Regions from separate parts of the Homo sapiens genome. Here regions 1 and 3 are each reported to be linked to region 2. The links are microRNA targets in miRTarBase. Many come from high-throughput screens and were not tested one by one. Region 2 holds a microRNA gene; each other region holds the end of a gene's coding sequence.

The links. Region 2 holds the annotated microRNA hsa-miR-3165 (AGGUGGAUGCAAUGUGACCUCA, at 1,579-1,600, shown strand). A microRNA usually pairs through its seed, bases 2 to 8, with sites in the 3' UTR of a target mRNA and lowers its output. Matches are read on the target gene's strand: a 7mer-m8 pairs with bases 2 to 8, a 7mer-A1 pairs with bases 2 to 7 and ends in A, and an 8mer does both.
Region 1: the mRNA of GARIN1A is a reported target of hsa-miR-3165. Seed matches in the 3' UTR shown: 7mer-A1 at 3,304-3,310, 7mer-m8 at 2,591-2,597 and 7mer-m8 at 1,455-1,461.
Region 3: the mRNA of EFNB1 is a reported target of hsa-miR-3165. Seed matches in the 3' UTR shown: 7mer-m8 at 2,313-2,319.

What each region holds. Positions count from the first base shown.
Region 1 is chr7:128,682,264-128,686,600 of GRCh38, reverse strand. GARIN1A (golgi associated RAB2 interactor 1A) reads right to left here. Exons shown (of 5, transcript NM_001128926.4): 5 at 1-3,637. The coding sequence ends at 3,442. Among named protein-coding and RNA genes, the nearest start is that of GARIN1A, 12 kb to the right of the region's middle.
Region 2 is chr11:72,069,535-72,073,871 of GRCh38, reverse strand. MIR3165 (microRNA 3165) reads left to right here and starts at 1,570; the gene lies at 1,570-1,644. NUMA1 (nuclear mitotic apparatus protein 1) reads left to right here. Exons shown (of 27, transcript NM_006185.4): 2 at 3,961-4,030.
Region 3 is chrX:68,840,228-68,844,227 of GRCh38, reverse strand. It overlaps EFNB1 (ephrin B1), which reads right to left. Exons shown (of 5, transcript NM_004429.5): 5 at 2,068-3,986. The coding sequence ends at 3,574. Among named protein-coding and RNA genes, the nearest start is that of EFNB1, 13 kb to the right of the region's middle.

The DNA of each region.
Region 1 (4,337 bases), not on the chromosome of region 2:
CCTGGTCCTTTCTGTCAGATTTATGTGTCAAAAAGTTGCTCTGTTAGAGGTATGAAAAGGGAATGAGTTGGGAAGACATTGGAGAGGCATCAAGAGTAATTTGGATTTTGGAGTTAGACAGACTGGCTTCAAGTCCTGGCTCTGCTACTTACTACCTGTGTGACCTTAAGCAAGTTCTTGAACCTCTCTGTGGCTCCGGTTTATCATTTATAAAATGTAATAATAAGATCTACTTCTCAATGGCTTGTGGTGTGGTTTATGTGATCTTTGTAAAGTCAGCATAGTGCTTAGAAGATAGCAAATTTCTAAAGATGTTAGCTATTATGATGATGATGATGATAAAGTCTGGGAGACCAATTGGGGTTACTATTTTACTTTATTTTATTTTGAGACGGAATCTGGCTCTGTCGCCCAGGCTGGAGTGCGGTGGCGCCATCTCTGCTCACTGTAACCTCCACCTCCCAGGTTCAAGAGATTCTTCTGTCTCAGCCTCCCGAGTAGCTGGGACTACAGGTGTGCGCCACCATGCCCAGCTAATTTTTGTATTTTTAGTAGAGATGGGGTTTCACCATATTGGCCAGGCTGGTCTCAAACTTCTGACCTCGTGATCTGCCCGCCTCAGCCTCCCAAAGTGCTGGGATTACAGGCCTGAGCCACCATGCCTGGCCTGGGGTTACTATTAATACAATAGTCTAGGTGAGGGCTGATGAAGGCTTAAACCAAGACAAAGAAGTGGGGATGACAAGCCTTTCAATGTTTATAAGTATGCCATATAGATAGGATGGCCACATGATTTGTGATTCACTGAGGGACACTTCTCAGAGTGAAATGGGTATGTATTAATAATGATACCAGGACAACAGGCATGCATTTGGAAGTACAATCACCCTGCACATTAGTCTTTTCTAAGTTCAGCTTCTAGATGTCCCTCACCAGCACCAACAATGCTCAGCTTATTTGATTGTAACATACTGAAAGGAAACTTGTTTTTAATTTTACTGGAGGCAAGACAAAACCAACAAGCATCAGGCATCCTCTTAACTCAGATGTCTTTTCTGACTCAATTCAGCCAGATTTGACTGCTCAGCCCAACTGAGCATGCACAAGAGGAGGGCAACCATGTTCTTTCTTTCTGCACCACATAGGATGTGAACCACACATGCTGGAAAGCAGGGCCTCCAGCTTTCATTTGCAGACTGGGTGGCTCAGACATCAGGTCAACATTAATGGCTTCACTATGTCTCCAAAATAGGACTTGGCATCTCTCCCAGACCCTCCCTCAAGGCAGGTAACTTGTCCGTCTGTCTTGTTCTCTCCAATATACTTAGCGTCAAACGCAGTGTCTAGCACCTAGCAGGAGCCTGACAAATACTTATTAAATATTGGAGTGGGCGTGGTGGGGCTGGGCGTGGTGGCTCATGCCTGTAATCCCAGCACTTTGGGAGGCCGAGGAGGGTGGATAACCTGAGGTCAGGAGATCAAAACCAGCCTGGCCAACATGGAGAAACCCTGTGTCTGCTAAAAATACAAAAATTAGCCGGACTGGTGGTTCACACCTGTAATCCCAGCTACTTGGGAGGCTGAGGCACAAGAATCGCTTGAACCTGAGAGGTGGAGGTTGCAGTGAGCTGAGATCACACCACTGCACTCCAGCCTAGGCAACAGAACAAGACTGTCTCAAAAAAAAAAAAAAAGGAGTCATGGTATTTTCCTTGTAAGTATTCCCTATGTGTATAAAGGTTGGCCAAAGCTCCTACCCCATTCCCAATACTCAAAGATGCCATGTCTTCCAGTTCACTTTCATTAGGTTCTGGGTAAGAAACAGTCAAATTAATCAGAATTTCTGGTGATGGGCAGTCAATATCTTCCTCACCATGTTTTCATTAGCAATGAAATGTTGTATGAGCCAGGGGAGCCTTCATAGCTTTACACTAACACAGGGCAATGAAGACCTAATTTATTCTTTTTTTTTTTTTTTTTTTTTTTGAGATGGAGTCTGGCTCTGTCACCCAGGCTGGAGCACAGTGGCATGATCCCAGCTCACTGCAAGCTCTGCCTCCTGGTTCAAGCAATTCTCCTGCCTCAACCTCCTGAGTAGCTGGGACTACAGGTGTGCACCACCACATCCAGCTAATTTTTGTATTTTGGGTAGAGACAGGGCTTTGCCATGTTGGCCAGGCTGGTCTCGAAGTCCTGACCTCAAGTGATCTGCACACCTTAGCCTCCCAAAGTGCTGGGATTACAGGCAAGAGCCACCGCGCCCAGCCAAAGACTCAATTTCTTGCTTGATATAGTGGAGCAACACAAAGGAATCTTCCAGCTGGTTACCATCCTTCTCAGGATTTCTTTTATTTTGGGCTTGCAGTAGCTCAACCTCTATTTCCCCCTGCCCCTTTGAAAGTTGATTTCTCCTCAGAGGCCCTTTCCAAGCCAGCCTTGGACTGGCTTTCTTGGCTTTGCTTGGCTATTGTGTGGTTTCAACTGAGCAGACTGATATATGATTTGGATCTGTCTCCCTGCCCAAATCTCATGTTGAATTTAATCCCCAGTGTTGGAGGAGGTGCCTGGTGGGAGGTGATTGGATCATGGGGGTGGATTTCCTCCTTGCTGTTCTCATGATAGTGAGTTCTCACGAGATTTGGTTGTTTAAAAGTGCATAGCACCTCCCACTTCTTTCTTTCTCCTGCTCCAGACTCGTAGGACAGGTCTGCTTCTCTTTTGCCTTCTGCCTTGATTGTAAGTTTCCTGAGGCCTCCCCAGTCATGCTTCCTGTACAGCCTGGGGAACCATGAGCCAATTAAACCTCTTTTCTTTATAAATTACCCAGACTCGAGGCTGGGCCTGGTGGCTCACGCCTGTAATCCTAACCCTTTGAGAGGCCAATGTGACTGGATGGCCTGAGCTCAGGAGCTGGAGACCAGCCTGGGCAACGTGGTGAAACCCCATCTCTACTAAAATATAAAAACTTAGCCAGGTGTAGTGTGTGCCTGTAGTCCCAGCTACTTGGGAGGCTGAGGCTGGAGAATTGCTTGAACCCAGGAGGTGGAGGTTGCAGTGAGCCATGATCGCACCACTGTACTCCAGCCTGGAGACAGAGCAAGACTCTATCTCCAAAATAAATAAATAAATAAATAAATAAATAAATAAAATTACCCAGTCTCAGGTAGTTCTCTGTACACACAGACAGTAACTTTTCCCACCTATTTTTCCAAAAACTGCTCCTGTTCTCAGTCAGTCCTTTCCCAAACTGGAGCCTCCCTATAGCCCAACCTGCAAAAATTAGGGACTCACTTGGAAGTTTATTGGTGGAAGTAGAGAAGCACCTTGTTGGAAACACCATCTTACCTCTCCCAAGGTCACTTGGCTCACAGTGGAAAAGGAGCATTATAAGAGGTGGTAGCAAGTACACGTATGCAAGGAAGAGCATGTTTTGCCTAGGTGTCAGGCTCCCAAGAAGTGCTCTCCTAGGTAACTGGCTATATGAACTTGTAGAAGGTGCTCATTCCAGTCCTCTTGTTCCCAGAGGCTGTGGCTCAAGGCAGCTCTCATGGGTATATTCAAATTGATTGGAGATGCCACTGGAGAGGGTATCTTGTAGCTGCTGCAGTTGTCTATTTCAATGGCAGTGTCATTGTTCCTGTAGGAGCCCAGGGAATTTTGGGGTTATTGAAAGCAATAGAAGAAAAAGAAAACATTGTTAAAATTTAACTTAAAAACCACTTTCAGCTGGGTGCAGTGGCTCACACCTGTAATCCTAGCACTTTGGGAGGCCGAGGTGGGCGGATCACTTGAGGTCAGGAGTTCAAGACCAGCCTGGCCAACATGGTGAAACCCCGTCTGTACTAAAAATACAAAAATTAGCCAGGCATGTGGCACACGCCTGTAATTCCAGCTACTCGGGAGGCTGAGGCATGAGAATTGCTTGAACCCAGGAGGCGGAGCTTGCAGTGAGCAGAGATGGCACCACTTCCAGCCTACGTGACAGAGTGAGACTCCTTCTCAAAAAACAACACAAAACAAAAAAAACCAACTCACTTTCTAATCATGCCTTTTTCCAGCTCCAGTGCTTTAAGGACATGTAGAAATATGGAAATGTGGGGCAGTGACAATATGCACACATGCAATAATGTTAAGGGCAACCCGAGGAGAGAAAGCCACAGAGGAGGAGGAGGGAGCCTGGAGCTAAGGCCTGCCCTGTGGAGGAACAAACAACTCTTCAAACCTTAAGTACTGCTTTGATGTGTTGAGAATATAATGTATTATGACTCAAAGACAAAATCCCGGGGACTAAAAATTTAAGATCAGAGAAGTGAGAGTGAGCTGGGCTGCCTGAAGGG
Region 2 (4,337 bases):
ATTATTACTATTCTCTTTTACAGGGAAGGCAACTGAGGCACAGGTAGATTAATCTCCCCAAAGCCACACAGTTTATAAGTGGTGGAGTTGACATCCTAATCCAAGCATTCTGGGTTCTACATCCCACATTCTGAACTTCTACAACATGCTGAAATTTCTTCCCTGTGGCAAACCAAAATCAGTCTTCCTGTAACTTCCACTCATTAGTTCTGGTTTTGTATTCTTATAGTGGACTCATAAGTCTTTCTCCTCATCTATGTGAAAGCTATGCGTATATTTGAAAAAAGTTTTCTTGTTCTCCCCTGGCTAAAAGTGTGTAGTTCTTCCTCCATATTTGAAATGATATACTTCTAGACCCTTTGCCATGGTCATTGGTGTTCTTCCTCTGCAAGTCCTCTAACTTTGCTCTTCAAAGGTGGGGCATAGAGTCATCTTCTACTAATGCAGCTTAAGACTGCATTGATGTTTTGGGTAGCTCTGTCAGATTCATGGTTTACTGAGAGTGTGCTTAATAATGGCCTCTCCTCTACCTCCTACTGTGGGCAACTTTTTTTTTTTTTTTTTTGAGACAGGGTCTCGCTCTGTCACCCAGGCTGGAGTGCAGTGGCTGTCTTCCCACCTCAGCCTCCTAAGTAGTGTAGCTGGGACTACACCCGGCTAATTTTTTTGATTTTTAGTAGAGACAAGGTCTTGCTGTGTTGCTCAGGCTAGTCTTGAACACCTGAGCTCAAGCAATCCTCCTGCCTCGGCCTCGCAAAGTGCTAGGTTTATGGGTGTAAGCCATTGTGCCTGGCCTAGGCAGCTTTTTTTTTTTTTTTTTTTTGAGACGGAGTCTCGCTCTGTGTCACCCAGGCTTGAGTGCAGTGGCGCGATCTCGGCTCACTGCAAGCTCCGCCTCCCAGGTTCACGCCATTCTCCTGCCTCAGCCTCCCCTCCCGAGTAGCTGGGACTACAGGCACCCGCCACCGCGCCCAGCTAATTTTTTGTATCTTTAGTAGAGACGGGGTTTCACCGTGGTCTCTATCTCCTGACAGTGTGATCCGCCCGCCTTGGCCTCCCAAAGTGCTGGGATTACAGGCGTGAGCCACCGTGCCTGGCCAGGGGAATAGTTTTGACAATTCCTCTGGCAAATTGGAGGAGGAGCTGTCTAGAAAGGCCAGTATCTTGGGTCTCATTGAGGGGAGGAGAGAACCAAGGTAAAGGGTTGGCTATTAGGTAATCAGTCGCGGTAATAAGGGGCCATTTGGCAGAAGTAAAAATGAGGTATCTGATGGCTGTAGAAGGGAGAGAAGGCATTATTGCATAGCATGCTCCTGGGTTGAGGCCTCTGTTGGCAGCTGTGTCGCCTGCCCTTTCTGTCCTATTGAAGGGCCAGTTTCTTTGAAGTCTGCACAGGAAATACCAGTGATTCAGCCTTGCAGATTTCTTCTGCCTTATTGCAGCTGAGGACTGGTTTATCTGGTGAGGAGGAAAGACTGCATATATTTCAGGCATGTTTATTTGATACTTGAGTGCCTTCCTGTGACTGGCCAGAGACACTTGTTTTGCAGATTGTCAAATTTTTGGTACCCGGTGGCAAGGTGGATGCAATGTGACCTCAACTCTTGGTCCTCTGAGGTCACATTGTATCCACCTTACCACTGGGTACTAACGTGTGGGCAGCAGCTGCATTCTGCCTAGCGAGTGGGCATTTGTTCAGTGCCTGTACTTCTGTGATGGCCTCAATGAGGAGTGAGGTAATTGCCTGCTTTTCTAGATTTCCTGTGGTGTGACAATGTGAGTTTTGGAGAAACCTCTTATTCCCTAAGAATTTCCTACTATACCCCTCATGAGCTGCAGCAAAGTGGACTCTGTCTGATTGCTGACCTCCAAATGCCCAGTTTCCTTAGGTAGTGAGCAGATACCTAAAGTAATGAGTGCCTATTATATCTGTCACAGAGCTGAGTATATAAAAAAGTATATAATACAGGATTTCCCTCCTTACTAAATTATTTTATTTTGAAAATTTTCAAACCTATAGATATTTTGCAAAATAATGTAACAAATACTTATATACTTCTCATTTAGAGTCACTATTAACATTTTGCCAAATTTGCTGTCTATTTATCCTTCATTTTCTGAATCTTTTTGACTGTTAGATGTAAATATCATGTTATTTAATCCCTATTTCAGCAAGTATTTCCTAAGAAAAAGGTATCTTCCTATATAACTACAGTACTATTAACACTCAGGAAACTTAACATTGATTCAATACATCCAGTATATAATACTTGTTCAGATTTCTCATCTTTTCCCAGTGATGTCTTTTATTGAGTTTTTTAAAATTCAGGATTCATTGAAGGATCATGCATGTATTTATGCACTTAGTTGTCATGACTATCATGTCTTTAGTCTGCTTTAACTTTGAACAGTTCTTTTTTAATCTGAATGCCTTTTTGTCTTTCATAGCATTTGTCTGATTCTTCTTGATTAGATTCAGGTTAGGCATTTTTGGTAGAAGAACTATATAGATTAATACAATAGTTTGATTGATGAGGCTGACACTAAAATACATAGAAGCAGTATCTGATTTTGCAAGACAGTATATAATTTAGCACTTATTTGTGTTGTCTAATCTATAAACCCTATAGGAATTTACAGAAGAAGGAATTCAGTAGGACTTGGATAACTAGGAATGAAATACTTTGGCAGAAAGATGGGGTTTGGAAAATGAACAGAATTGGAGGCAGTTGGGATATGGTTAGATAAGCTGTGATTTGGGCTTCCCATCCTACTATTAAGGTTGTGTATCATGAAAAGTGACTTTGAGGGTTCTGTATCTTCCATGGTGTTTGCACTGCTAGAAGCCTAATGGTGTAGAGCTCTTGCTTTGGCATCAGACAGGTCTAGAGACTGTGCCCAGCATTTTGCCAGTTACCTAACCTTGGGGAAGTTTTCTCATTTGCAAGATAGAGTATTAATAACTATTTAAAAGGTTATCGTGATGCTCACAGTGAGACACTACATAAATATTTGAATTAAAATATTTGAATGCCTTTAGGGGGGTGCAGCGTTTCCTAGATCTGCCATGTGCCCCACTGGATCATTCATTTTGTTTTGTTTGGATACGTGGTTTCGCTCTGTTGCCCAGGCTGGAGTCCAGTGGCACGGTCTCAGCTCACTGCAGCCTCCCAAGTGGGTGGGACCCAGGCACACTCCACCACACCTAGCTAATTTTTTGTATTTTTGTAGAGACGGAGTTTTACTATGTTGCCCAGGTTGGTCTGGAACTCCTGAGCTCAAGCGATCTGCCCACCTTGGCTTCCCAAAGTGCTGGGATTACCGCTGTGAGCCACTGGGCCTTGCCTGGATAATTTGTTTCTGTTACCTGCCTGACCCCTGAAGATGTTTGAATTTACCACTCCTGGATAATTGAAAGCAGGGAAATGAGAAAAGGCTTGGCTCACGCAGAGAGAAGTGGGAAGACTGGCTTGATCAATTCAGAGTATATTCTGTAGAATAGTGGGAAATAAGGTTGAATAAATGACTTGAGGCCATATAATGGAGGATTTGGAAAGTTAAGCCAAAGAATTTAGATATGATGCTTTAGGGAGAAGAAAACTGGAAGATTTTTGAGCAGGAGGAGAGACACTTGAAAATGAGAGTGGTGTGGGGCCTCCTGAGGAAGAAGTTTTCTGGCTTAAAGACTGAAATCCTAACAGGGCAGGGCCTTCACAGTGCTGACCAAGTGTGGGTGTGGCTTGGCAGTCTTGCCACAGAAGGCCAGAATTTCTGCCCCAGTGACTCTTCCTGCTCTGCCACTGACTCACCCCGTTGACCTGGCCTGCATGGCTTCCCTTCTGCTTGCTGTCTGATCCACAGAACGCTGGGGTTGCCCAGGATAATGTGAGGCTGAGCTCACTAAGAGTGGGTGGGTTAGGGGAATGAATAATCATTCCTGTCCCTTTGCCCCTTCCCTAGGTGGAAACTAATTCTAAGCCAGACTGCTGGAGATCACCCTGTTCTAGTGTGTGGAGGCTTCCACCAGGAGGTAAGTCAAAATGGTTTCTGCCCTCTAGTTTTTCATAGGTCAGCTTTGTCCTGAGCAGGATCTCTACCATTTACTTTTTCCCTGACCCAGATTCTTCAAAGTGATTGTCTTTGTCTTTCAATTATTTGAGGCAAACAGGTTACTGTAGGAGGAGAGCAGAGAGGTTTAATAAAGATATTTTTCTAACTGTGGGAGGGTGGTGTCCAGAGGTTTTCATTGGCCCTTGCTCTGAGGTAGATTGCCCAGAACTCTTGTGAGCCAGACACTAAACATTGGCCATTGAGGCCACTGCAGAGAAGTCCTGGTT
Region 3 (4,000 bases), not on the chromosome of region 2:
TCCCTGACTCACCAGGAGCTTAGGCCCAGCTGGGACAGGAAGGAGAGTCAAGGGTGGGGCAGTCTGGGGCCCTACCACTGGAGGCTCCCACCTCCTGCCTCCAGCTAGCTGAGCTTGGTCCCTCCCTGACCAAGATAGATGGAAAGGGAATGGGGGGTGGAGGTGGGGAGGGCTCCTGTTTTTTAAGATCCCCAAGGAAGCATGCTTGCTCAAAGGCAAGAAGTGGGAAGTCATACCCCTCGCTCTCAAGGAATACCTCTTATTTGCTCGTGGTGTAATAAAAGGCCTGCACTTGTATCCTAGTGCTCCTGTTCACCTGATGTGTGTCCTTGGGCAAGTTACAGCCCCTCACAGGGTCTCGGTTTCCTCATCTCAAATATAAGTCAGGTAATTCCCCACCTACCACCCTCACAGGGCAGTTTGTGAGATTCAATGAAACAAAGTGTGTAAAAGCATTTGAACAAACTGGCAGGTGCTGTCCAGATGAAGGACACAAGGAACTACTAAGCACACTGTGTGACCAACAGTGTGAGCACCAAGCTCAAACCAGCACCAGCCATGGCACCCATGCTAGGGCAAGGGAACAGCCAGTTGCGAAGCTTCTGGGCTAACCAGCAGATTGCCCCACTTTCCTTTGTAAAATCTCCCTTGGATTTTACTTCACACTCCCACAGCTGCTCCCAGGGGGCCCCCAGTGCTCCATCCCCCACTGGGAGGGTTGAAGGCGTGGACTGGGTGGGGGACTACTGGAGGAAACTCAGTTGGAGAAGTGCGGGAAGTGCTCACTCAACTGAGTCAGGCTCTACCCCAGTGAGCGACACCAATCTGGCCTGAACCAACCCTGATGAGAGACCCCCAGCCCAGGCCGGGCCCCACTCTGGGCAGGCAGTCAAGCAGCAGAGGCTCCATCTGATCCAGGCACTTCCTTTGGTTAATGAGAAACCAAATAAACAGCCTCTGCCCCAGCTGGCTCCAGGAGCACCCCAGCCAGGCCCAGCCCTACACTAGCCCAACCTTCCTTCCCTCCGCCTGCAGGCCCTGTGGCTTTCCGCCCCCTTTCTTCTCCACCAGCTCCCCACTTCCCTCATAGCCCGGGTGGCACCTTGGCTAATTCTCTGGGGCTTCCTACTCTGGATCACTCTCTCTCTCCTTCTTCTTCCTCTTTCCTCTGCTGCCTTCTACCCCATTTTTAGCTGCTGGATCTCACTTGTCCTCTTCCCCTGACATCTGTCTTAGCCGTCTCCACAGGGAGTCCCCCCACAAGACCAGCAGGCGGCTCCAGGCTGGAGCAGGAAGGCTCCAGGCCCTGCCAGTCTGCCTCTCCGCTGTGGGATGGAGGCCAAACCCTCTTCAGGGCCCTCACCACACTCTTTGACTTGAGCAAGTTACTCATCAGCCTGTGGGAGGTAGACCGGGTGCTCAAGGCTGCTCTAGCTTGAGGGTATCGACTGCTGGCCAGAAGCCCCCAACTATGCCATGGTGGTGGCTGTGGTGTGGCCCAGCTCAGAAGCAAGATTCTTCTGGCTGAGAGGTGAACTGGGCAGCCTGAAGCAGGCCCAATACCCAGTAGGCTGCAGCTGAAGTTCAGATCTTGGGAAGTTATTTCTATCCACCTCCAGGCGTCCTGAGGCAGGGCAGGGCTGGGCCTGCCAGCAGGTCCCAGATCTAGCCCCAGCTAGGTGGTGGCAGTACTTTGTGGACACACCCAGGTCCCCATGGGAACATCCCCTCCTCCATTAACCCTCTCTAACTGGGCCTGTGCCAGACTGGGCAGATGCCCGTGGCCTATGCCACAGAGGTGACAGGATGAACAGGGGAAATGGTCTCAGGCTCCATGACAGCAGAACAAGAGAGCAGAAAAACCTGGGGTGAGGGGAGTGGCAGGAGGGTCATAGGGCATTAAAACATCTTGCTCCACTAGGATAGCCATCATCTGCCCGTACCTGCCCCAGTCACCAGTGGTTTGAGCACAGGAAAGCGCACACACACACACCCCCACCACACACGCACGCACACAACTCTCACTCTCCATTTCCCAACATCACGACACCATTTTACACCCATTTCTCCATGTGGTTAATTTTTTTTTTTTAGTTCTCATTTTTTTCTAAGAAAAAAGCAACAAGAAAATAATTCAGAGTTTATACAAAACATCTTTACATTATTTTTTTTCCAAAAAGACTAGTATTTACACAAATGGCAACAGAAACAAAAACAAAAACCCTTCCGACTGCCACCTGGAAGGGGCTGGCTGTTCTGCTCCCTCTCCCACCTGGCACTGGGGTGGGCAGCTGGCCAGGAGGCAGTGTGGAGGTGGATGGTGTGAGGGCCAGCTCCTTCCATGGCTGCTCTGGGAGTGCCTGCAAGGCGCACTCAAGTGGCAGTCTGTTAGCAGCCGTGCTGGCAAGGAACTGGGGTCAAAGTGCACAGCGGGCTGGCCCAGCCCCAGGCAGCCTCTTCCTCTTTCCAGGCCCCAGCCCAAGACTGGGACAGCAGCAGGAGCTGGGTTGGGTGGGGGTTACCCACCTGTGCTAGGGCCCAGAAAAGGAGCAGGCCACCTGGTCTTATACCCGCTTAGGTCTCCACCCTGGGCCTCTGTTTCCCCACCAGGCCAAAGGATGCCAAAGGTAAGGAGAGAACAGGGTGGGGGGTGGGGGTGAAACTCCCAGCTCTGCAGGGCAAATAGCCACCTGGGCACCTCACCTCCCTCCACCCCCCATGAGGTCATCTGCCTGCAGCAGCTCTCCTGTTCCCCAGGCAACAGCCAATTAAGACATTAATTACCGTGAGAGTGAGGGAGGCAGGAGATGCCCAAGAATCCCACAAGGAAGGGATTTTTTTTTGTGTGTGTGTGTGTGTGTGTGTGTGTGGAAGGGTGGCAGTGACTACCCCATTGCCAGGATAAGCCTCGTAGGAGGGTCAGGAGGGGAGGGTGGGACACCTTGCCCAGTGGCACTTTCCTCTTCCCTCATGGGCGTGAACAGCCCTGGCCTGCCCCTTACCCCACCAGAAATACCAAGGAATCTATAAAAGAAATGGCATCCTATGCTTCCTGGCTGACCACATCGTGCCCCAGGCCCTCTTGTACTGGCTTGGGCCAGGCTCACAAAGCCTGGGGAGGGGCTGCCTTTTACATTTTTCCATTTTTCTTCAAAAAACAGATGAAAATGAGTTGACAGCTAAAAAATGAACACAAAAGCATTAAAAACAGTGATGATAGCGGACAAGCAGTCCTGGGAAGGTGGCAAGGGGGGCGAGGGAGGGGCAGGGCCAGGGGACTGTCTCCCTGCCTGCTGTCCATCAGTGTCCAGCCCTGCCTTCCAAGAAGGGGCGCCCCCACGGAGCCCAGAGGCCTGGCCAGAGGGGGAAGGCACAAGAGCATGGGGGTTAGGGGCACAAGCACCCCCCTCCGAAGCCCAGGGGGCAGGGAAAAAGGGGGATTATAAAAGCCAAGAAACTACAAAACTAAATACAAAGGTGGGCACAGCTGGCAAGGGGAGGGGGTGTGGGGGCGAAAGGAGAGGTCCGGTCCAGGCCGACTGTCCCTCGGGGGCCTGAGGCCGTGCCGGGCACTCAGACCTTGTAGTAGATGTTCGCCGGGCTCTGGGGCGGCATCTCTTGGACGATGTAGACAGGGTGCCCGTAGTCCCCACTCACCTTCTCATAGTGGGGGCAGTAGTTGTTCTCTGTAGTCCGTAAGGGAATGATGATGTCGCTGGGCTCGGTGCCCGCTGTGCCACTGCCCCCCTTGGGACTGGCCAGGGTACTGAGCGAGAGGGCAGCCGCCCGCTGCTGTGTGTGCTTGCGGTGCCGCTTGCGTAGCTTCAGTAGTAGGACCGTCAGGAAGATGATGATGAGCAGGAAGATGACGCAACCGGCACCGACAGCCGCGAACAATGCCACCTTGGAGTTGAAGAAGCCATCAGGGTCCCCGCTGCTGCCCCCACTTGCACCTGGGCCACTCTTCTCTTCCTGGTTCACAGTCTCTGAGGAAGGGAAA